Regions from separate parts of the Homo sapiens genome. Here regions 1, 2, 3 and 4 are each linked to region 5. Evidence: fine-mapped expression QTL. A gene starts in region 5. Each other region holds a variant in brackets. All regions are shown on one strand. Distances are from middle to middle.

Region 1 (5,110 bases), 150 kb after region 5:
ATAATGACTAAGAACCTTCCAAAATTAATGACAGGCATGACACCACAGATCCAGAAATCTTAGAGAACACCAAGCAAGGTAAACCAAATGCTCCTATGAAAAAATAAGCAAACAAACAAACAAAAACTCCACTTAAGCAAATGAGTCATATTATATTCCAGGCTCAGAAAATCAAGGACAGAGAAAATCTTTAAATAAGCCAGAGGGAAATAATTATCTTAACTACAGAGGAGTGAGAATAAGAATTAATGCAGACTCCTTATCAGAAACCCCTGCAAACAAGAAGGTGGAGTAAAATGTTTAAAGTGTTAAAATAAAAAACACAGCCACCTAGAATGGAGAGCAAAACTATTCTTCAAAAATAAAAGAGAAACAAAGACTTTATCAGACAAGCAAAACTAAATGAACTTAATGCCAAAAGACTTGCCATTCAAGAAATGCTAAAATAACATATTTATGAAGAAAAAATTATATAGGTCAGAAACTTGAATCAACATAAAAAAGGAAGAAAGTAGATTATTCTTAGCTGAACTAAAAATACTAGTTTTTTTTAAAACTTTTATTTTAGGTTAAGGGGTGTGTGTGCTTCTTTAAAGCAATAATAGTAGCAATGTACTTGGTTAGTGGAATAAATAAATAAATAAAATAAACAAAAAGTAGCTGGGAAGAATTGGGAATAATCACTATTATAAGATATCTACACTACATGTGAAGGCAGAGTGTTTTTTGAAAGTGAACTTAGATTAGCTTAAAATGTATATTGTATACTCCAGGATAACTATTATAATTTTTAAAGAATGAAAACTGGCTCCCTCTCCCTCTCCCTCTACCCACAGTCTCCCTCTGCCCACTGTCTCCCTCTCCCTCTCTTTCCATGGTCTCCCTCTGATGCCGAGCCGAAGCTGGACTGTACTTCTGCCATCTCCGCTCACTGCAACCTCCCTGCCTGATTCTCCTGCCTCAGCCTGCCGAGTGCCTGCGATTGCAGGTGCGCGCCGCCACGCCTGACTGGTTTTCGTATTTTTTTTGGTGGAGATGGGGTTTTGCTGTGTTGGCTGGGCTGGTCTCCAGCTCCTAACCGTGAGTGATCTGCCAGCCTCGGCCTCCCGAGGTGCCGGGATTGCAGACTGCAGACGGAGTCTCCTTCACTCAGTGCTCAATGTTGCCCAGGCTGGAGTGCAGTGGCGTGATCTCGGCTCGCTACAACCTCCACCTCCCAGCCGCCTGCCTTGGCCTCCCAAAGTGCTGAGATTGCAGCCTCTGCCCGGCCGCCACCCCGTCTGGGAAGTGAGGAGCGTCTCTGCCTGGCCACCCATCGTCTGGGATGTGAGGAGCCCCTCTGCCCGGTGCCCAGTCTGGGAAGTGAAGAGTGCCTCTTCCCGGCTGCCATCCCATCTAGGAAGTGAGGAGCATCTCTGCCTGGCCACCCATTGTCTGAGATGTGGGGAGCGCCTCTGCCCCGCCGCCCTGTCTGGGATGTGAGGAGTGCCTCTGCCCAGCCACGACCCCGTCTGGGAGGTGAGGAGCGTCTCTGCCCAGCCGCCCCGTCTGAGAAGTGAGGAGCCCCTCTGCCCGGCAGCCACCCCGTCTGGGAAGTGAGGAGCGTCTCCGCCCAGCAGCCGCCCCGTCCGGGAGGTGGGGGGCAGCCCCCGCCCAGCCACTGCCCTGTCCGGGAGGTGGGGGGCGCCTCTGCCCAGCCGCCCCTTGTGGGAAGTGAGGAGCCCCTCTGCCCGGCTGCCACCCCATCTGGGAGGTGTACCCAACAGCTCATTGAGAACGAGCCATGATGACGATGGTGGTTTTGTCTAATAGAAAAGGGGGAAATGTGGGGAAAAGATAGAGAAGTCAGATTGTTGCTGTGTCTGTGTAGAAAGAAGTAGACATAGGAGACTCCATTTTGTTCTGTACTAAGAAGAATTCTTCTGCCTTGGGATGCTGTTGATCTATGACCTTACCCCCAACCCGGTGCTCTCTGAAACATGTGCTGTGTCCACTCAGGGTTAAATGGATTTAGGG[C/A]GGTGCAAGATGTGCTTTGTTAAACAGATGCTTGAAGGCAGCATGCTCCTTAAGAGTCATCACCACTCCCTAATCTCAAGTACCCAGGGACACAAACACTGGAAAAAAAAAAAAAAGAACAAAAACTGGTATGCTAAGAGACAATATGGAGTTATAAGCCACAGAATACAAAAAAGAAGAAAGCAAACAAAGAACAAATGCAATAAATAGAAAACAGTTGCTTCAATTAAAAGACAGACTGTCAAGGTTATAAAAAACAAGACTCATTTAAAGGTTGTTTAAATATGAATGGTCCAAATACATTTAATTAAAAGACTGTTGAGGCACACAGGATTCATTTATAGGTTGTTTATAGTTTCTATCTGAATAAAAACCCATGTACACAGCTTAAAAATAAAGAAATGGAGAAAGATATACCATGCTAACACTAATCCAAAGAAAGTTGCAGCAATTATATTAATTTCAGACAAAGCTAAATTCTGAACTGGGAAGATTATGAAGTATAAAAAAGGGTATAACATAACGATAAAAATATTGATTCTACAAGATAAAAAATATATAAATGTGTATGTTTGGAGCAAAAAGACATCAAAATACATGAGTCAAAAACTTTTAGAACTGAAAAGGTAAAGCACCAAATCTATTATAGGTGAATACTTAAATGCCCTTTCATCAGTAATTGTTTAAGAACACAGAATATCAGAAAGAATATAGAGGAACTAAACAGAACTATCAACCACTTTCTCTAATTGATATTTATAGAATACTCCACCCAATGACAATGGAATATACATTCTTCTCAAGCTCACATGAAACATTCACCAAGATAGACATTCTGGAGCATAAACCACACATTTACCAATTTTTAAAAATAGAAATTATACAACGTATGTTATCAGATCACAGTGAAGTTAAAACCAGAAATCAAGAACAGAGGATAGCTGGAAAATCCCAGCATATGTGAAAATTTCTATATAACACATTGGTCAAAGAAGAAGTCTGAAGAGAAATTTTTAAAATATATTTTGAGCTGAAAGAAAATGGAAATACAACTTATCATTTTTGACATGCAGACATAGTAATATTTGAAGGCAAATTTAAATCATTAAATGCATACAATAGAAAAGAAGAAATATTTGGCATCAATAACATAAGCCTTGTCATAAGAAACTAGGGAAAGAAAAACAAAGCAAGCAGAAGAAAAATAAATATCAGCAGAAATCAATAAAATTGAAAGTAGAAAAACATTTGATATTGACTATCAGCAAAGTTTAAAGCTGATTCTTTGGAAAGATCAGTAAAATTTATAAACCTCTTGAAAGAGAAAGAAGAAAAATAAAAGAACACACAAATTAGCAATACCCTAAATGAAAAAGGGGCCATAACTACTGACCCACTGATATTAAGAAGATTATAAGGAAATAGGAAAAACTCTATGCCCAGAAATTTGATAACAACTTAAATGAAATAGGTCAATTCCTTGAAAGATACAATGTACCACAACTCACACAAGGAGAAATAAAGAAACTGAATAGCCTTATATGTATTAAAAAAATAATTTAATAATAATTAGCCTTTCAAAAAATTAAAGTAACAGGCCCAGATGGTTTTACTGGTGAATTCTACCAAATAATTAAGTAATAAATAATGCCAATTTTCCACAGTCTCTTCTAGAAAGTGGAGGCAGAGAAAATGTTTTTTGAGTAATTCCATGAAGTCACTATTACCTTCATACCAAAATCAAACAGACATATTTTTTAAAAACATAGACAATATATCTAATGAATGTTAAGGTAAAAATTTTGACAAAATATGAGTAAATCAAATACAACAATATATAAGATAAAGTATACACCATGACTAAATGTCGTTTATTTCATGTTTTCAAGGCTAGTTCAAGATTCAAAAGCCAATCAATGTAATCCACCAAATCAACATGATAAAGAAGAAAAATCATATGTTTATGTCAGTTGGTGCAGGAAAATCATCTGACAAAAGCCAATGCTGACTTCTGATTTAGAAAAAGTAAAATTCTCAGCAAATTAGGAATAAAGAAGAACTTTATCAACTTGATAAAGAATATTTTTTAAACCCACAACTAACGTTATACTTAAGGTGAGAAACTGAATTCTTTCCCCCTAAGATCAAGAGCAAGACAAGGATGTTTCCTCTCAGCACTTCTATTCAACATCTTACCAGAAGTCCTGGTTTCTGCAATAAGACAAGAAAAAGAAATAAAAGGTATATAGATTGGAAGAAAGAATTAGTGTTGTCTTTATTAACAATTGCCATTATTGAATAAACCCCAAAGAACCTACAAACAAAGCTTCCAGGACTAATGAGTATGGTAATGTAATAGAATACAAGGTCACTATACAAAAGTCAATTGTTTTTCTATGCACCAGTAATGAAAAAATGAAATTAGAAGTAAATACCACAAATAATAAAATAAACATAAATCTAAACAAGAGTGTAGAATTTTGATATAGAAAACTACATAACACTGAATAGAAAAATCAAAGATTATCTAAATAAATTGAGATATTTCATGTTCTTGGATTGAAATAGTCAATATTGTTAAGATAGCATCTTTTGGAGGAGGAGCCAAGATGGCTGAATAGGAACAGCTCTGGTCTACAGCTCCCAGCGTGAGCGACGCAGAAGACGGGTGATTTCTGCATTTCCATCTGAGGTACTGGGTTCATCTCACTAGGGAGTGCCAGACAGTGGGCGTGGGTCAGTGAGTGCGCGCACCGTGCGCGAGCCGAAGCAGGGCGAGGCATTGCCTCACTTGGGAAGCGCAAGGGGTCAGGGAGCTCCCTTTCCGAGTCAAAGAAAGGGGTGACGGACGCACCTGGAAAATCGGGTCACTCCCACCCGAATATTGTGCTTTTCGGACCGGCTTAAAAAACTGCACACCACGAGATTATATCCCGCACCTGGCTCGGAGGGTCCTACGCCCATGGAGTCTCGCTGATTGCTAGCACAGCAGTCTGAGATCAAACTGCAAGGCGGCAGCGAGGCTGGGGGAGGGGCGCCCACCATTGTCCAGGCTTGCTTAGGTAAACAAAGCAGCCAGGAAGCTCGAACTGGG
Region 2 (5,110 bases), 140 kb after region 5:
ATCGTGAATGGCCAAGAGCTTCTGTGCTCATTATTGTAACAGTTAAAAGCTCTGCCAAGCATTTCTGATTTCACCATAGAGGCACCATACCACTCCGTGGCTGGACTACTACATAGTTTTTGCTCAGAAGCCTCACAGAAGACAAATGTCTTTAGACATATATTTTAGTATCAAATGATTTTCTTTATTGGAAAATATTCTCTATTGCAGCTTTACTTTCTTTTTAGCATTCTTAGTGTAAATGATTAACAGCTGGTCATCAACTTCTTTTAAATAGATTTTTATGAACTTGAAGAAAGTCTCCGTGCGTACTAACCTTCATCATTGATGTGATTTACTTTATGCAAAACTTCTCTTTCTGAATATGCATAAGCAAATCAGAATATAATTTAAATACCCTAGAGAAGCTTACTGTTTAAAGAGATAAAAATGTGAAATATTACATAAATTGAACTGATCCCCTTCCTTCAACAAAATGATGTATCTTTGGTGTAGCTGTTTTTTTATATTCAGGGTTTGCTTTTGCTTTAGGTGAGGGACACTTAAATTTGCTGTATCTTTCCTGATACAATTGTTTATCTCTGCAGAGTGGGTGTAGGCTTACTCACAAAGTTGTATTGGCTATAAATTTGCCTTCTAGTTTAGGGAAGGTAAAGATGTAGCATAGTTTATAACATACGTGAATCAGTGCTCTGAACTGTCAGCAGACTTCCATCACTCAGACAGAAGTGGGGAGAGGCTGGTGGTTGGCTAAGATTTTCCTTTTTCTTCTTGAAGACAAGATGAACCTTTCTACTTTGCTTCTAATTCTTAAAGGATGCGCAAGGAGGATGATTCATAGTCTTGAAAGAAAAGACATCACTAGTCCATCCCTAAACAAATTATTTTCAAGCACCCAATCCATGCATAATTTGGAGCTAGTGAAATATGAAAAGATGTAAAAGGTATTATAAAGTTGCTAAGTGTTTGTATGAGGTGAGGCAGCAATAATGGGGTAAAAATAATCCAAATAAACATGAGAACCTCTGAGTGTAATACGGTTTTATGAAGGCCTGAAAATGTGCACTCATCTCTGAAGAGTAGGAAAGAAATAAGAGGAGAAAAGAGAAGCCATTCCAGATGTCAGGGAGGAAGAGTAGATATGAAGTAGGAGCATGTATGGTTATACAGTGAAAAAGTGAGACTATATGATTCTATGATGCATGGAAAATTATAACAGATGGTCACAGAGTAAAAATATTTTAAGTAAAGATAAGTAAACCCAGGGATTAACTTAATCCACTAGGAAATACATCACCAGATTTGTAACTGAGAACTATTGAACTTCAATCAATTTCAGAAATGTGCTTCTACTGCTTTACTGGGACTATGTGACTTTTATGCTTTTATGTTTCAGATTTGGGAACCAATCCATGAAAAGAGAGAACTTTACTCTCATCACTGACTTTGTTTTCCAAGGTTTCTCTAGCTTCCATGAGCAGCAGATCACCCTTTTTGGCGTGTTCCTTGCACTATACATCTTAACCTTAGCAGGCAATATCATCATTGTGACCATCATCCGAATGGATCTTCATCTTCACACACCCATGTACTTCTTCCTGAGCATGCTGTCCACTTCAGAGACTGTATATACATTGGTCATTCTCCCAAGAATGCTCTCCAGCCTCGTAGGTATGAGCCAGCCCATATCATTGGCAGGGTGTGCCACACAGATGTTCTTTTTTGTAACCTTTGGCATCACTAACTGCTTCCTGCTCACAGCAATGGGATATGACCGCTATGTGGCCATCTGCAACCCCCTGAGATACATGGTTATTATGAACAAGAGGCTGCGTATCCAACTTGTCCTGGGGGCCTGCAGCATTGGGCTGATTGTAGCAATAACGCAAGTGACATCTGTATTCAGGTTACCCTTCTGTGCTAGAAAGGTGCCCCACTTCTTCTGTGACATCCGCCCTGTGATGAAGCTCTCCTGCATTGACACCACTGTCAATGAAATCCTGACTTTGATTATCAGTGTGCTGGTGCTTGTTGTACCTATGGGTCTGGTTTTCATTTCTTATGTTCTCATTATCTCTACAATCCTCAAGATTGCTTCAGTTGAGGGCCGGAAGAAGGCTTTTGCCACCTGTGCATCCCACCTCACTGTGGTCATTGTCCACTACAGCTGTGCCTCCATTGCCTACCTCAAGCCCAAGTCAGAGAACACCAGAGAACATGACCAGCTGATCTCGGTGACCTACACTGTCATCACTCCCCTACTGAACCCTGTGGTATACACCCTGAGAAATAAAGAGGTCAAAGATGCTCTGTGCAGGGCTGTTGGTGGGAAGTTTTCCTGACCATGTAGGAAGAGTTCTCCTGAGGCTGTCAACATCCACACTAGGCAGGAATATGAGGTGTAAACTCACAAACACTTGGCTCCTAGAGACCTGCCCCTTAAATAAGAGGCAAAAGAGGAATAGCAGTTTCATACAACTGGGAGTCTGAAGCTTTAAATAAAGTTACTGGATGGAGTGTTATCCCTATTTTTGGGGATAAATAGACAAACAAGGATAAGATATGCCTAAATAAAAGGCCAGAAAGTAGTATGGGCTGAGAATTTTTTACTGACCTTTTGGTTTCTTTGTGAATCTCCACCTAATGAAGGCAATAGAAAGCCCCTTGAGAAAATAGAATCCAAGACACACTTAAAATCTTTTTCCTATAATCCCTTTCTTCCTATACTAGAGCACCAGGGCTTCTGAAACTGGATTCCCTATTGGAGTATGTTTATGACATGTCAAGTAATAAGTTACTGTGTGGGGAGGGAAAGTGGCCTCAGGATTAGATAGCCCAGGAGAAATAGATGTTCTCTCCTGGATGTGTTAATTTATCCCAGATTCTAGCAAAACTGCTTATTAAAGATGGTGAGCATACACAGTTTAATTAGAGATGCTGGCAATTCTACAGTCATCATGACAGTGTTTTGAGGGCATAATCTGAGATACTCCTGGATCCTTTCAAATTTGGCTAAATCAGAAAACACATAATGGGCAAGAGCTATGAACTAGCCTCTGTGCTAGGTCCTGGAGAAATAAAGATTAAAAAAGCTTTCTTGTCTGG[C/T]TTCAGGAAGCTACAAGCCTAGTGGTAAAAACAAGCATTTGACAGTATGGTTTCAGTTCTTTATGGTAAGTGGTGTTTACACACAATTAAAGAAGAACTCAGAAAAAGAAAGAAAAGGAAAGGGGAAGAGAGAGAGACTGTTGGAGATGTTAGGGAAGTCTTAAGAGGAGGGGACCTGTGATGCAAACTGTTTTTAAAACACAAGAGATTGTCTGAATGATAAGAAAGAATTCCAAAGAGAAGAAACAATGTAGCTACAGGTATGAAAGCAAAAGGACTGATCAGGTAACGAAAAATGATTCAGTTGTGCTGACTCCAGGACATGGAAGAGGTGGGGATTGAAGGAGATAAAACCAGAAGGGTAGGTTGGGGTCATATTCTGAAGGCCTCATATGCCAAATTAAGGAATTTCAGCTTTAACTTTTTTTTAAAAAAAACAGAGTCTTGCTCTGTTGCCCAGGCCGGAGTGCAGTGGCACAATCTCAGCTCTCTGCAACCTCCGCCTCCTGGGTTCAAGTGATTCTCCTGTCTCAGCCTCCTGAGTAGCTGGGATTACAGGCATGCGTCACCACATCCGGCTAATTTTTGTATTTTTAGTAGAGACAGGGTTTCTCCATGTTGCCCAGGCTGATCTCAAACTCCTGACCTCAGGTGATCCACCAACCTTGGCCTCCCAAAGTGCTGGGATTACAGGCGTGAACCACTGCACCCGGACAGTTTTTACTTTTAAATATGGGAACTACCCAGGACTTAGGAGAACTAGGATTCAGTTTGTGAAGCATCTATATGAATTCTTAACATCTTTATCATACTTAGCTCCCCTGAGATATCTAAAAAGCCATATAGGGGGAGGGAGACTTTGGACTGCAAGCCAAAAAGCTCATGAGTAAAAAGAAAATGTGACTAAGGTATTGGGGAGAATACACAGAAATAATTATGTACTTAAGATGAAGCTGAATCAGACTGTCATAGAGAACATGGAGTGGAGGCTGTCCCAGGACTGTCATGTAGATTTGGGGTTTGAGATACAGATGAGCACCAAGGGAAGAATAAGGATTTGCTGTCAAATCAGTGACTAGGCTGGGCCTCAGACCTGGTGGCAGTATGGTCTCAGGGCACACTTTCTACTAGGCTGAAAGTGTGGACTCTTTAATCAGAAAAGCCTTTGAACGAACAAACAAACAAAACAGCCGAGATCCAAAGGACACATGTATCTGCATTCCAGACCATAATAGAACTACTAGGGCATTTTTCAGGATTAACAAGGTCAATGGCAAAAATAAAACCATATCTAAAGTTCTCTAAGAACATCATAAGGTGGCTAAAAGTAACTAAGACAAGTTGTTAACTGACAAGAAAAAAAACTGAAAAAAGCAAAACATTGCTGGTAAAGATTTTGACAGGCATTCAGTAAACATTCATGAAATGTTTACCAGTTATTCAATAAACATTCATAAAGTATTTACTATGTGCCAGATACTATGCTAGACATAAAAAAATCTTGAAATAAGCCCTGTACTATCCCTTAAATAGTTTCCAGTCTTGAAAGGGAGATGGGTTTATGCAGAACTCACCGTAATTCAATGTGATGGAGAAATGAACAAAGTATGCTTAATATTTAATGACAAAAATGTAAGCCTCGGGATATTTTTTCCTGATCTATATAAAGCTAAATCTCATCAAGCTAAGAATGGACTTTGCACGTTGAAGTTCAGTGAAATAAATGCCTGTTACCTGGACAGTAAGGTTGCCTTGATCTGTGTGTAGTGCTATCTCCTGGGGCCAAAGGCTATGTAGCTCCTGCTGGGCATCACTCAGAACATTTCATCACCATGGAATTTTAGAACATTTATCACTCAGGTTTTTCAGAAATCTTGTTTGAACAGAATAGCTTAACAGTCAGACATTATGGAATCAAATGTTTTCAACAATCCCTTTTTTTGGAATTATTTTAGTCATCATTCATGCTCTGTATCACTGCTTTCACACTGTAGCCCCTTGCCAC
Region 3 (5,110 bases), 170 kb after region 5:
CAGTTGTATATTAGTCCATTTTCACATTGCTATAAAGAATTGCCTGAAACTGGGTAATTTATAAAGGAAAGAGGCTTAGTTGACTGACTCACAGTTCAGCATGTCTCGGGAGGCCTCAAGAAACTTAGCATTGTGGTGGAAGGCAAAGGGGAAGCAAGGCACCTTCTTCACAGGGTGTCAGGAAGGAGAATGAACACAGGTGGAACTATCAAACACTTATAAAACCATCACATCTCGTGAAAACTGACTCACTATCATGAGAACAGCTTGGAGGAAGCCGCCTCCATGATTCAGTTGCCTCCCCCTTGTCTCTTCCTTGACATTTGGGGATTATGGTGATTATGGGGATTACAATTCAAGATGAAATTTTGGGTGGGGACACACCCAAACCATATCAAGACCACTTTAATTACAGTGGCTATTTTAATAACCTCATCGTCCCCAGTAATCTTGTGCTGCATATATACAAGGGTTGTGGGTTGGGGCATATTTGTCACGAAAAAAAAAAAAAAATTGTACATATGTTTCCCAGGATAAAACTTCCAGTATATTCTCAGAACCAATGTTAAATTAATTTTTGTTTTAATGTAAGGAGTTTTTTGTATATCACCCTTAGTTGATTCTGCCCAAAACTAAGATCTTCTCCAAAATGATTTTTTCTTCATTATTATTTATATAACTAGCTAGGACTTTAAAATGGCAGTTTGCCTTACTAAAAAAGTAAAGAAAAGAAAAACTAAAGGGAAAACTAAAGGTTCTGCTTTTTTGAGCACCCAACTATATAAGTCAATAAATGTTTAAAAACAAGATCTCTCTATATCTTCCACTACCAAGTATTGTGTTTTGCACAAACCAGTTCACCATTAAATATCTATGGAAGGAGACAAATATCCATGGAAAGGAGAAAAAGAAAGAAAGGGGAGAAGGAAGAAAAAAAATGTATGAGCTTTAGACAAAGAAGAAAAAGAAAGAACTAACATAACCGACATCTAACCATTTGTTGGACATTTGCCTTATAGGCTTATTTTATCCTAACAAAGAGAATAGGAATTTTATCTATACTTAGCTGATGAAGGAAATGAAGTTCAAAGTTCATGTATAGTTAAGGAGCCATGAAGAGAGAAATTCAAACTGCTACACTTCCAGCTCTCCCTGTCTTCACTATGGTATTTTCCTAGGATTACTGTAACAGCTTCCTGACTCTCCTTGCTTCCACTTTAGCTTCCCTAAAAATAGTAACTGCTCAGCAACCAGAGCCTCTTTAAAATATAAATCAGATTGTGTCACTGTTCCCTGCGTGAATCATTCTGGTGGCTTCCTTTTGCATTTAGAATAAAATGTAAATTTCTTCATAAGTCTAAAAAGCCCTACCTGACCTGGCCTGTACCTCTGTCTCCAACACCCTATCACTCTCACTCTCACTAGCCTCCAGCCATACTACTTTCTAAGAATACAAGAATACAAAGCCCACACCCAGCCTTGGCCTTTCAACTTCCCAGATTCCTCCTGCCTGAAATGCTTTCCTCTGCAGGCCAGATCTGACTCCCGCACCCCTGCCTGTTTTTCTAAATAAAGACTTACACGGGAGAGATAGCTCAATTCCAGCACTTTGGGAGGCTGAGGCAGGCAGATCACGAGGTCAGGAGTTCGAGACCAGCCTGACTAACATGGTGAAACCCCATCTCTACTAAAAATACAAAAATTAGCCTGGTGTGAGGGCGCACACCTGTAATCCGAGCTACTTGGGAGGCTGAGGCAGGAGAATCACTTGAACCTGGAATGCGGAGGTTGCAGTGAGCCAAGATTGTGCCACTGCACTCCAGCCTGGGCAACAGAGTGAGACTCTGTCTCAAAAAAAAAAAAAAAAAAAAAAAAAAAAAAGCAAGACTTATTAGTACACACCCACACCCATTCCTTTATGTATTACCTATAGCTGCCCTAAATTATGACCTATCGGCCTCTATCTGTTCACTTATATGATGTTTCCTTCTCAGTTGCTGCTTCCAAAGAGAGGCCTTCTCTGACTACCCAGTCTAAAATACCTCCTTGCCACAAATCTTATCATCCTATTGTCCTTATAAGATTTATTTTACTCATTTATTGATGTATTAATTATCTAACTCCTCTCTCTAGAATCTGTGTTCTATGAGAGTAGTAGCCTTACAAGTCTTATTTATAACATTTGCCAGTTACTAACATAGAGTCATCTCTTGATAAATATTTTTAGTAAATGAATATA[C/T]GATGGAACACTTTGTTTTTATTACTCCAAAATTCAAGATTTTTTATTACATAATGACTCTCTCTAACAACAAAAGAATGTCTGGCCATAGGAAAGAACAATGTATAATTAAGCAATTTTTGTTCCGTTCTGAAGATCTTTTTGATATTCAGCAGAGATAGGCATCATACCATCCTCTAGAAAACCGTAAAGTCTACGAAACACAGAGTACACATTTGTAGAATACATATTTGTAGCGTGCTCTCCAACTTAATGGGCAGTGCCATATGAGATCAATTTATAACAACCAGGCAAAAGCATTTGGAAGGTTTCCGCATGGGGAGGAGTTCGTTCTGGGTTAGTCCTGGAAAACACTTCAAAGTAAGCAGTGTATCTTTTGAGCTCAATAACTTGACTTTTGTCTTCATAGCATTCCCTGTTTCCACTGATGCAATCACTACCCTCCGGCTGATTAATCATGATATACCCAAACAGTATCAAAGCTGCTATGGTCTGAATGTTGTGGTCCCAAAAATTCGTATGTCAGAAGCTAATACCCAATATGATACGAAGGGGCCTTCAAGAAGTGATTAAGTCATGAGTGCTGCACCCTCATAAATGTAATTTGTACCCTTATAAAGGAGGCTTAAGCAAGCTTCCTTGCCCCTTCTGCCAACTGAGGACACAGCAAGTGCCATCTATGTGAAACAGACCCTCATCAGAACCAAATCTGCTAGCACTTTGATCTTAGACTTCTCAGCCTCCAGAGCTATAAGCAATAAATTTCTGCTGTTTTATAAATTACCCAGTCTAAGGTATTTTGTTACAACAGCCCAAAAGGACTAAGAAATAAGCCCATAAGACAGCTACCCAAGCTTGTGACAGCCTTTTCCGATAAAGTTTACTCATCTTGAGGCTGATTCCTTAAATACCTTTATCTGCTACTAAAAGTTGATGGTAATACACTGATCATGCAAATAAAAAGCTGGTAACAAGTCAGCTGATATGTTGCTCCCTACTTGAAAGAGCTGTTCTTGGAAAGCCATTTGCCTTCATTTAGGGTCATTAAGAAAAAAGATATTTTAAACCTTTTTGCAAGCCAAGTTACTATCATTACCTCCTGGATGTCCCTAAATGTATAATATTCTATCAACCAAGTCTTGGGGTAAGAATGGCTCTAATTAGTTGGGACATCTGTAGTAATTGTAAAGTGAGTATATAGGATTAGATAATCTCTAAGTCCCTTCAATTCCAAAACCCTATGCTTTTATAATGAACTTTATGGACTTCAGAGCAGTGGGGAAGTATATGGAGTATGGACCCTGAATGAAACATCACATTGATGGGAAATAGAATGTCGTTTTTTTTGGGGGGAAATACCTTAATCTTGTTAAGCCGTAGTTTCCTAGGTACAATATAGACATAATAATGCCTGCCTCTTCTGTAGTTATGATAATTACAATGCGCTAATTGCATATAAAGCAACTTAGAGCTGTAGCTAGCTGATAAATGAAACCTAGTTTTATTATTATTGGGATTCTAGTGTTCTCAACTCTCAATATGGTAGTATGATACTGAATATTACATTGGTTATGTTCTGATAAAATCATCATCTTAGGAAATGAGACATACTAGAGATAAATTTCAAAGAACTGGAAGAATGTGGAAGAGTTGATAAAGTGAGCCAACAAGGATGAGCTCTTGTCTTGGAATTTGGAGGGTTAATTAACACAGCTACACAAATGAACTATGACCTATTTTTGACCTTAAATTAAGAAACTTGTTATCATAGGGAGATTATTAAGGACACATGGGGGTAGGAAGGGACATAAATGAGAAAACTATGTGTTGGCCTTGTCTTCAGACTGATGAACTGCTCTTGTAGTGTAAAACAAGATGGAACCTGCCTTGTTATTAGAACGGAATGTGCAAGCTGCAGGTAGACTATATCAACCCAAATGTGATGAGGAATGATTGTCTTACACTAAGGAGGTTTGAGACTTGGTAAAGCTCCTTATTATATTTACCAAATTTCTTAGCATTGAAATCTTTACTTTCTAAACTTATCCAATTTATTCTGTGTAATGAAATGAAGAAAATCATATTTCCCAAAATTCCTCTTAGGGAGACTTTGTATTTATTCAAAAGAAATTACTTTTTTTGGAGTATGAGACCCTAAGGAAATGCCGAAGGAACACAATACAGCAATTAAATTGTTCCGCTTACTAAAGGGATGAGGAATTTTAACAGGAGTGAATCTTAGAGGCGGAGGAAGAGGCCAGTGAGGCAGGAAGATAGTGGAGAGAGGGAGGAAATAGTAGGAGGGAGCCAGAAGACCTATTCATTGAGTAACAGAGAAGGGATTTAGGAAAACATTAGAAATGACTAATTGGAGGGGGTGTTAGATTTGCTTTAAGGGTGCAATGTAAAGTCCTTCATCTATTTTCTTTTACAGCTCTTCAAGAATGCCATTATCATTGCTTACCCAGGCTTTTGGAGATTATTTTGCAGACTTGAAGAGGTGCCAAGTTCTGTGTTCAGATTAGTACAGGGAGAAAACAGAATGTTCCAGAGTTTCATAACTTAGGGGACAGGGTGGGAGAGCCAATATCAGAGTCAGATGTAGTCATATTTCTTTGTGGTTTCTCATAATGTTTTTAATGAATTTTTTAAAAATACCTCATGTAAACTGTAATATGGATAATTAAAACCAGAGAAGCAGGAGAACTCTAAATGCGACAGAAAGACCCTCACAAGAGGGAGACGCAAACTTAGAAGGTAGAGTTCAGGGACTAGTTCTGGCATTAATGTCCAAAAGAAATATAATTAAATTACATATGTAATTTTAATGTTTCTAGTGGTCAAAGTTTTTAAATGCAGAAATAAAGAAAT
Region 4 (5,110 bases), 100 kb after region 5:
TGACTGAACGGATGAAAAAACAAGATCCATTGATCTTTGCCTACAAAAAACACTTCACCTATAGACACACATAGAATGAAAATAAAGGGATGAAAAAAGATATTCCATCCCAATGGAAAACTAAAAAGAGCAGGAGTCACTATAGTTATATAAGACAAAATAAATTTCAAGATGAAAACTATAAGAAAAGACAAAGAGTGTCACTATATAATGATAAAGTGGTCACTTCAGCAAGGGGATATAACAATTTTCAATATAAATATTTTATAAAATTTAAATATATATTTATTACATAAAATTTAAATATAAAGTACCCAATATATAAAAGATATATAAAGAAAATACTATTAGAGCTAAAGAAAAACATAGGCCCCAATACAATAAGAGCTGGAGACTTCAGTACCCCACTTGCAGCATTGGACAGATCTTCCAGACAGAAAATCCATAAAGAAACCTCAGACTTATTCTGCACTATAGACCAAATAGACCTAATAGATATTTACAGAACATTTCATACAAGAGCTGCAGAATACACATCCTTTTCCTCAGCACATGGATCATTCTGAAGGATAGACTATATATTAGGTGACAAAACAAGTCTTAAAACATTCAAAAAATTTAAATAATATCAAGCATCTTCTCTGGCCAAAAGGGGATGAAACTAGAAATGAATAATCAGAAATTTTGGAAAATATACAAATACATAAAAGTTAAACAATATGTTCCTGAATGACCAGTGGGTCAATGAAATATTGAAAACTTCTTGAAACAAAGAATAATGGAACCACAACATACCAAAACCTATGGGATATAGCAAAAGCAGTACTAAGAGGGAATTTTTCAGCTATAAGTGCCTGCACCAAAAAAAAAAGAGAAAAAACTTCAAAAAACAATCTAACAATGCATCTTATAGAACTAGAATAGCAAGAGCAAACCAAACCCCAAAGTAGTAGAAGATAAATAATAAAGATTAGAGCAGAAATAAATAAGATTAAAATTTGCAAAACACAAAAGATCAATGTAATAAAAGTTGGGTTTTTGAAAAGTTAAACAAAATTGACAAACCGTTAGCCAGACTAACAAAGAAAAAAATAGAGAAGCTCTAAATAAATAAAATCAGAAATGAAGAAGGTGGCATTGCAACTGATACTGCAGAAATTCAAAGGATGATTAGTGGCTACTATGAGCAAGTATATGCCAATAAATTGGAAAACCTAGAAGAAATGAACAAATACTTAGGTAGATACAACCTACCAAGATTGAACCAAGAAGAAATAAAAAACCTGAGCAGATAAATAACAAGTAATGAGATTGAAGCCATAACAAAAAGTTTCCAGGAAAGAAAACCCAGGACCTGATGGCTTCACTGCTGAATTCTACCAAACATTTAAAAAACTAATACCAATCATACTCAAATTATTCCAAAACATAGAAGAGGAAGGAATACGTCAAACTCATTCTACAAGGCCAGCATTATCCTGATACCAAAACCAGACAAAGACACATCAAAAAAAGAAAACTACAAGCCAATATTTTTTATGAATATTGATGCATAAATCCTCAACAAAATACTAGCAAACAGAATCCAACAATACATTGGAAAGATCATTTATCATGACCAAGTGGGATTTAATCCTGGGATGCAGGAATGGTTCAACATTTGCAAATCAATCAATGTGATACATTACATCAAAAGAATATAGGACAAAACCATATGATCATTTTAACTGATGCTTAAAAAAGCATTTGATAAAATCCAACATCCCTTCATGATAAAACCCCTAAAAATCAGGGGATAGAAGGACCATACCAAAATGAAATACAAGCCATATATGACAGACCTACAGCTAGTACCATACTGAATGATACTAGCTGAATGGGGAAAAACTGAAAGCCTTTCCTGTAAGATCTGCAACACAACAAGAATGCCCACTTTCATCACTGTTATTCAGTATAGTACTAGAAGTCCTAGCTAGAGCAATCAGACAAGAGAAAGAAATAAAGGGCATCCAAATTGGAAAGGAAAAAGCCAAAGTATCCCTCTTTGCAGATGCTATGATCTTATATTTGGGGAAACCTAAAGACTTCACAAGACAACTATTAGAACTAATAAACAAATTCAGTAAACTTGCAGGATAAAAAATGAACACACAAAAATCAGTAGCATTTCTATATGCCAACAGTCAAAGATGTGAAAAACAAATTTTTTA[A/T]AAAAAATCCCATTTACAATAGCCACACATAAAATGAATTATCTAGGAATGAACTTAACCAAAGAAGTGAAAGATCTCTATAATGAAAACTATAAAACACTCATGAAAGTAATTGAAGAGGACACCAAAAAAAGGAAAAAGATTCCATGTTTATGGGTGGAAGAATCAATATTGTTAAACTATTTATAGTACCCAAAGCTGTCTACAGATTCAATGCAATCCCTATAAAAATACCAATGATATTCTCCACAGAAATAGAAAAACCAATCATAAAATTTATATGGAATCACAAAAGACTCAGAATAGCCAAAGCTAGCCTAAGCAAAAAGAACAAAACTGGAAGAATCACATTACCTGACTTCAAATTATACCACAGAGCTACAGTAACCAAAACAGCATACTAGTGTCATAAAAACAAACACATAGACGAATTGAACAGAATAGAGAACCCACAAACAAATCCACACACCTACAATGAACTCATTTTAAACAAAGGTACCTAGAACACAAACTAGGGGAAAAGACTCTCTTCAATAAATGGTGCTGGGAAAACTGGGTATACATATGCACAAGGATTAAACTAGACCCCTATCTCTCACCATGCACAAAAATCAAATCAAAATGGATTAAAGACTTAAATCTAGGGCCTCAAACCATGAAACTGCTACAAGAAAACATTGGGGAAAATCTCTAGGACATTATTAACCTGGGCAAAAATTTCTTGAGCAATAACCCACAAACACAGGCAACCAAATCAAAAGTGGACAAATGGGATCACATCAAGTTAAAAAGCTTCTTCATAGTAAAGTATACATTCGACAAAGTGAAGAGACAACCCACAGAATGGAAGACAATATTCTCAAACGATCCACGTGACAAGGGATTAATAAACCAAATGTGTAAGGAGCACAAACAACTCTATATGAAAACAATCTAATAATCTGATCAAAAATAGGCAAAAGATTTGAATAGACATTTCTCAAAAGAAGACATACAAATAGCATGCAGGCATATGAAAATGTGCTCAACGTCATTGATCATCAGAGAAATGCAAATCAAAACTACAGTGAGATATCATCTCACCCCAGTTAAATGGTTTATATCCAAAAGACAAGACAATAGCAAATGCTGGCATGGATGTGGAGAAAAGGGAACACTTGCACACAGCTGGTGTGAATGTAAATTAGCACAACCATTATGGAGAACTTTTTGGAGGTTCCTCAAAAAACTAATAATTAATCTACCATATGATCCAGCAATCCAACTGCTGGATATATACACAAAAGAAAGGAAATCAGTATACTGAAGAGATTGTACTCCTATGTTTGTGGCAGCACTGTTTGCAATAGCTAAGATTTGGAAGCAACCTAAGTGTCCATCGATAGATGAATGGATAAAGAAAATGTGGTACATATACACAATGTAGTAATGTTCAGCCATAAAAAAAGAATGCAATCCAGTCGTTTGCAACAACATGAATGGAACTGGAGATCATTACATTAAATGAAATAAGCCAGGCACAGGAAGACAAACATTGCATGTTCTCACTTACTTGTGGGATCTAAAAATCAAAACAATTGAACTCATGGGCATAGAGAGCAACCAGAGGCTGAAAAGTATAGCTGGCGGCTTGAGGGGGAGGTGGGGATTGTAAATGGGTATCAAAAAATATAGAAAAAATAAATAAGGCCTACTATTTGATAGCACAACAGGATGACTATAGTCAAAAATAACTGTACCTTTTGAAATAACTTGAACAGTCTCTTGAAAAGGCCTGAGTTGGAGAAACTGGAGGTGTTTCAGCCAGCAATAGAATTTAATGTCTTCCACCTTTTAGACAATCCAGGAATGAATATAGACTCCGGGAAAGGAACTAGGCACCTATTGTTTCCAGTATCCTTTTTCACACCCATCATCAGAATTGCAGCATAGGATTCTGCAGGTTGTGCAGTGCGCGACAGTGCCACATTTGTAAATGATACAGGAGTATCATTTACAGCTCAAACATCATAGGTTTGTGATAATTTATTACGAGAGGGCAGTAAAATTATTATGGCAGTTTTCAACAGAAATGTCTAGAGAAGATGCTTTTTTCCCCTAAAATGGGTAGACACGCTTCATAGAACAGTGACAGCCTTGCCTGTACTATCCAATGAAGACCATGATTTTTCTCAAGAGGTGTCGGCTTCATGTTACTCCATTCATTACAAAGAGCAAGTGACAATGATAAGAGAACTAGATCCAAATCCTATCACTACAACTGTCTAGTTTCGTGTGCCTGGGCAGATAAATTCTATCTATATGTGCTTTAGTATTTTCAGGTCTAAGATAGGGATGATAACATAATTGTTTCCCAGCCTACTCTATAGGGTTCATTAAGGATCAGGTGAAATCCTATATGTGAAACTTCCTTATAAACTATAAAGCGATGTACAAACATATAGAACTTTGTTTTCAGTGTGATAAACGGTAATTCCCCGTTTTTATACCCCATGATAATGGTGGTGCAAGACATGAGGTAGCACTATCGAGGAGAAACTGCATATACTCATGGCTCACCATGGGCTCCATAGGGTGAGGGTGATGCCTACACCAGTGAAAGAGGAACCAGTAAACTTATACCAAAGTTTGTGAACAAATAAAGACATGAGGAAAAAAGGTGGATCTAAGGGGGAAATTGTATAAGGAACAACTAAATTAACACTTTCCATTTTCACCTCTGAAGGTTCCCTAGCCTCAAAATAGAATAACACATCTGAAGCTTTTTACAAGGCATCCAACATGAATCTTCCATTTTTGTGTTATTCGGCAGGACCTGTGATGACATTCCAGGAGCAGGCCCCATAGGAGGCTCCCTGGACTGTGGAGAATCACAATATTCCTGACTGCCAAAACTTTGG
Region 5 (5,093 bases):
ATACTCTTCGAACTAGGAATAGTACCTCTCGATGAGCCCTGCTCCATCTCCCATCTAAGTAGGAGCTATTTAGATAACGACTTCAGAGGAAGCCTTTAAATAGACTATTTGAGTCATGGTAAAATGACTCTCTCTGAGGGACAATTTGATTGTAGGTTCACTGTCCTAGGAAAAAGGAACCCAAATTTCCCCTGGCAAAGTCTCAACAAACTGGTAAAGTAGAATCTTTCCCCGTCTCTTCCAGGGCTTAGGGCTTCAAATATTGCCCTCTGACAGCACCTTAAAAACTACATCTTCCCTATTTCCTCCTCCTTCTCTTCTCCAATCCTATCCAACAACTTTCTGCATTCTGTTCTTTCCTGATTATGCTCTCTTCTTTGTGACTGTGGAGAGGATTGAGATTGCGTAGATATATTAAACTAGCATAAGATGTTGTTTATCAAATTAAACATACTATGTAGGTTGACAATAACTTTAATCCAGTCAAAATTCATATTTCTCCTATAAGTCTTTAATAAATAATGATAATAAAGAAGACAAAAAATGTATTTATTGACCATATTTCACATGTCAGATGCTGTGCAATGCATTTTACTTCTTTTTTATCTTATTAAATCTCATAATATAACCATGACCTGGATACCATTATTGTCCCTATTATACAGGTAACCTTCAATCACATAAAAATTAGGAACATTTGAATTCAGAGCTTAAAACACAAACAACTTGTACTTTTCAAAATAACTTGCTGTTACCTTTAAGGTCTGTCATTAAAACATAGCATGTCCTGGGCTCAGTACCTAATCTTTCTTATCTGAAACTTAAATTCCTATTTATTAACCTTTTTAGCCCTATATTTTCTAATTCCATAGAAAACTAAAGGTTTTGGTTAGATCTTCATGTGGAATGACTGGTTTCATTCAATAGACTTAATTCAGCAGTCTGTGGGGAAGAGCAAGGTATGATAGAATGGTTCCTCAAGTGCTTCAGATGTGAAGTGGGTTTAAATATACTGTCCCTGTCTTCTTCAGAGTTTTGGTAAAGATAAAATAGGACACTCATTTAAAAGCAATCTTTGCAAATGACAAGCCACTATAGACATTAATAGAGTTTTCATTTCCAGTATTATCATTAATATCAGATCCTGGAAGAAGGTTGAGCCTTGACCTAGAGCAAAAAAACAGAAGAATTAGTAAAGGAATCCTGGAGAAAGCCCCTGCTGTGTATTTAAAGGAGAAAGGGAGATCATGTTGGGAAATTATAATATTAAAAGTAAACAAAAGCTAGGAAGTAAAATAAAATAAATTATATGGCCTAGATCCCCATAAGTAATGGTTTAACTTCTGCCTTCCTGTGTTCTGAGCCAGATTAGGGCACAGTAGAGAAAGAGGAGTCTCTGAAAATGTTTCCAATTTCGCTGGTCAGACAGCGGATCATCAGTGAATCAGATGAAAATTTGTGGATTTATGCACTAACTGATCAGCAGGAAATTAAACAAGAAAAGCGTTGGTAGCTCTGGTGAATCCCAAAAGAATTTGGCAGTTGCTAGCCATGCTCCTGAATATGTATAAACAGTACATCATATGACTAAGAGTTTGACTTAGGGGTTAGATTTTATGTGTTTGAACCCCAAATTAGTTATTTAATAGTTGGCACCCCAAAACAAGTTACTTAACCTCACTAAGATTCAGTTTTCCTGTTTATAAAATGTAGATAGTGATAGTATGTACTTTATAGGATTATTGTGAAAAATAAATGAAATATCAGATTTATTTAGGATAACACCTGGCATATGTTTGGTATTCAGTAATTAGTTGCTGCTGTTTTATTCTGCTCTCCCTTGCATCCCACTTTTCTAAGTTGTAAACTAAATAGTTGTACACAGATTGACAGATTAAGAAAGGCTTGTGATTGTGCTAGACCTATGCCTCTCTCTCACCAGATTCCAGGTGTATATGTGGAGGTGGGATAGGGAGTGGAGTAAGTGGGTAAATATTAAATTGCCCAGTTGGGCACCATCCTGAATATTATCTCTAAAGAAAGAAGCAAAACCAGGCACAGCTGATGGGTTAACCAGATATGATACAGAAAACATTTCCTTCTGCTTTTTGGTTTTAAGCCTATATTTGAAGCCTTAGATCTCTCCAGCACAGTAAGCACCAGGAGTCCATGAAGAAGATGGCTCCTGCCATGGAATCCCCTACTCTACTGTGTGTAGCCTTACTGTTCTTCGGTAAGTAGAGATTCAATTACCCCTCCCAGGGAGGCCCAAATGAATTTGGGGAGCAGCTGGGGTAGGAACCTTTACTGTGGGTGGTGACTTTTTCTAGGACATGTGCAAACTATTGGGCATTTCCCAGGGACTCTGTAGTGGAGCCAAGCTAGAAAGCAGAGGCAAGTGGGCTGAGCAACACCTAAGGAGGAAGCCAGACTGAAAGCTTGGTTCCTTGCATTTGCTCTGGCATCTTCCAGAGTGCAAATTTCCTACCAAGGAAATGAGGGTAGAGGAGAGAAAGAAGCTCTTTCTTCCCCTGATTCTGATTCCTGAAAAGACGGTTGGTCCTTAAAATTCCATGGATGTAGATCTTATCCCCACACCCAGATTCTAGTCCTCTGGAGATAAAGAAGACTGCTGGACACTAATGTATCCTCTCTGGACTTTTGCAGCTCCAGATGGCGTGTTAGCAGGTGAGTCCTCTGTTCTTGTTCCCTTGGTGTTTCAACATGTCTGGGCATTGCTTTCCTCTCACTATTTTCTTCGTCCCATCACTTCTGCTTTCTAATGAGCATGAATCTGTTCCTTGGCCAGACTACTTTCCCTCTCCACCTTGCCTTGTCTTTCTTTTTTTCCCTGATTCATTGCATTCTCTCAAGTCATTCTCTCCTCTGTTTTAGTCAATAACCATGTCTGTTGCACATATACATGTCTCATTCTCTCTCCTAGACACTTTGGCATGATCTCGCTCAATAATTACATTATTATTATTATTGCCATTTTATAATTGAGGATGCTGAAACTCAGTGATTTTCTGGTGGTTACATGGCTAAGGAACTGGATTTCAACGTAAGTTCCTTGGATCTAAGTCCAGTTCTCTTCTGACTATATCACCCTTTTGTTATCACCATGTATCTACTTCTTTGGTCTCTGTTCAAATTTGCACTACATCCCCTTGTTCCAGGAAGCCATTCAAGACTGACTTTCTTAGTGCCTCTCACTACTTTCTGGAACTGACATATGTTTTTCACTCTGTATATACTTACAATTAAATAGTCATAAATATTCAGAGCTTGGAGAAACCTTATATTTCATCCAGTCCAGTAAATTTATCCATCCATAATTCACTCATTCATTCACATAATAAATATTTAATGTAACAATGGTTGAACATGGCAGACAGTGTTTCTACCTCAAAAGAGATTGCAGTCCTCATTTACAGATACTGAATTGAAATTAACAGAAGTAGAGTGAGTCAGCTCAAATCACATAGTGAATTGGTTTCTTTGTTTTTAAATCTCCTGCATATGTGTCCTGTCTTTCTCCCTGTGTTGGGCGTTCCCTGGGGCACCAATACTAATTTCTCCTTCCCCTAGAAATCAAAACAGGGTCTTATCACCAACAGAATAAGGACAGGTTGACCACTGATTGTCAGAATATTGCTTCGTTTGTACTTTTAAGCCTAGACAGTTTTCAATGACTTTTTTTCTCTCTACATGTCTTTTCATATTTTTATCTTCTTGAAGTCCCTCAGAAACCTAAGGTCTCCTTGAACCCTCCATGGAATAGAATATTTAAAGGAGAGAATGTGACTCTTACATGTAATGGGAACAATTTCTTTGAAGTCAGTTCCACCAAATGGTTCCACAATGGCAGCCTTTCAGAAGAGACAAATTCAAGTTTGAATATTGTGAATGCCAAATTTGAAGACAGTGGAGAATACAAATGTCAGCACCAACAAGTTAATGAGAGTGAACCTGTGTACCTGGAAGTCTTCAGTGGTAAGTTCCAGGGATATGGAAATACAGATCTCTCATGTGAGGGATGGCTCATCTGAAGATGGGAAAAAACAGGTTATTCCAAGGGTTAGGACACCAGAGTGGGATTCAAGGCCTCTCATTTTTAAGACCCCTGCATTGGCTGGGCACAGTGGCTCACGCCTGTAATCCCAGCACTTTGGGAGGCTGAGGCAGGTGGATCACGAGGTCAGGAGATCGAGACCATCCGGCTAACATGGTGAAACCCCATCTCTGCTAAAAAATATATATATATAAAATTAGCCGGGCGTAGTGGTGGGCACCTGTAGTCCCAGGTACTCGGGAGGCTGAGGCAGGAGAATGGTGTGAACCCAGGAGGTGGAGGTTGCAGTGAGCTGAGATCACGCCACTGCCCTCCAGCCTGGGCTACAGAGCAAGACTCCGTCTCAAAAAATAAATAAATAAATAAAAAAGACCCCTGCATCTCTTTTCTTCTACCCCCTTCCCTTTTGATTACTTGTATGCCTTCTTTCAATATTCTAGTCATCTCTCAATATTATTCCTCCACCCTATTTTCCTCTATCTTTTCTGCCTAGATTCAGGTATATATTATGTGGTCAAACAGCATGACATATATGTGAACATTTCAAAGAGCTGTGTATCTGGAATAGGATCAAAAGGTTTGACTTAAAGTTTTGCTCTGCATAATCCATATGGCAGGACCTGAATATTAGGTTGTACTCTTCGTTATGAAACATATCTGGGTACATTTCCTTATGTCCTCTGTTGTTACTTAAGAACACATATTTCATGCTTGTTTCATTTTTATCACTCCTACTGCCAACAAATAGCATAGCATGCTTAGGCACATGTGGCTTAATTAGCAAATGTTGAATAAACAAATTAATGATTTTGAATAGTGACCAATAGGTCTCTTTTATACTCTATATTTTTCTCTTGAGTGAAAAAAAATGTTTCAACCTCCATATGTAAATTCCAAACACAAACTAAAGCAATGTAGAATAGCTTCTTTATTCCCTGGAGTAGGTTCTAGAGAAGTCCTAAAGGATTGGTCCTAAATTAATTATGCTTATTATGCTAGCGATATTTCCTTTCAAAAT

The links. PIP is the estimated chance that this variant, and not a neighbour inherited with it, causes the effect.
Region 1: its variant is fine-mapped to the expression of FCER1A in whole blood (TOPMed, PIP above 0.99). The same link has a PIP of 0.9 or more in blood mononuclear cells.
Region 2: its variant is fine-mapped to the expression of FCER1A in whole blood (TOPMed, PIP 0.92).
Region 3: its variant is fine-mapped to the expression of FCER1A in whole blood (TOPMed, PIP above 0.99).
Region 4: its variant is fine-mapped to the expression of FCER1A in whole blood (INTERVAL, PIP 0.99).

What each region holds. Positions count from the first base shown.
Region 1 is chr1:159,448,344-159,453,453 of GRCh38, forward strand. No RefSeq gene overlaps it. Among named protein-coding and RNA genes, the nearest start is that of OR10J1, 11 kb to the left of the region's middle. The variant C/A (reference allele first, on the strand shown) is at 2,017.
Region 2 is chr1:159,438,380-159,443,489 of GRCh38, forward strand. It overlaps OR10J1 (olfactory receptor family 10 subfamily J member 1), which reads left to right and starts at 1,343. Exons shown (of 1, transcript NM_012351.3): 1 at 1,343-2,588. The coding sequence starts at 1,413. The coding sequence ends at 2,342. The variant C/T (reference allele first, on the strand shown) is at 3,106.
Region 3 is chr1:159,468,895-159,474,004 of GRCh38, forward strand. The region is part of intron 2 of LINC02819 (long intergenic non-protein coding RNA 2819); the gene reads left to right. Among named protein-coding and RNA genes, the nearest start is that of LINC02819, 5.4 kb to the left of the region's middle. The variant C/T (reference allele first, on the strand shown) is at 2,240.
Region 4 is chr1:159,400,283-159,405,392 of GRCh38, forward strand. It overlaps a transcript of OR10J1 not described here. Among named protein-coding and RNA genes, the nearest start is that of OR10J1, 37 kb to the right of the region's middle. The variant A/T (reference allele first, on the strand shown) is at 2,211.
Region 5 is chr1:159,300,187-159,305,279 of GRCh38, forward strand. It overlaps FCER1A (Fc epsilon receptor Ia), which reads left to right and starts at 2,150. Exons shown (of 5, transcript NM_001387280.1): 1 at 2,150-2,233; 2 at 2,668-2,688; 3 at 3,742-3,996. The coding sequence starts at 2,179.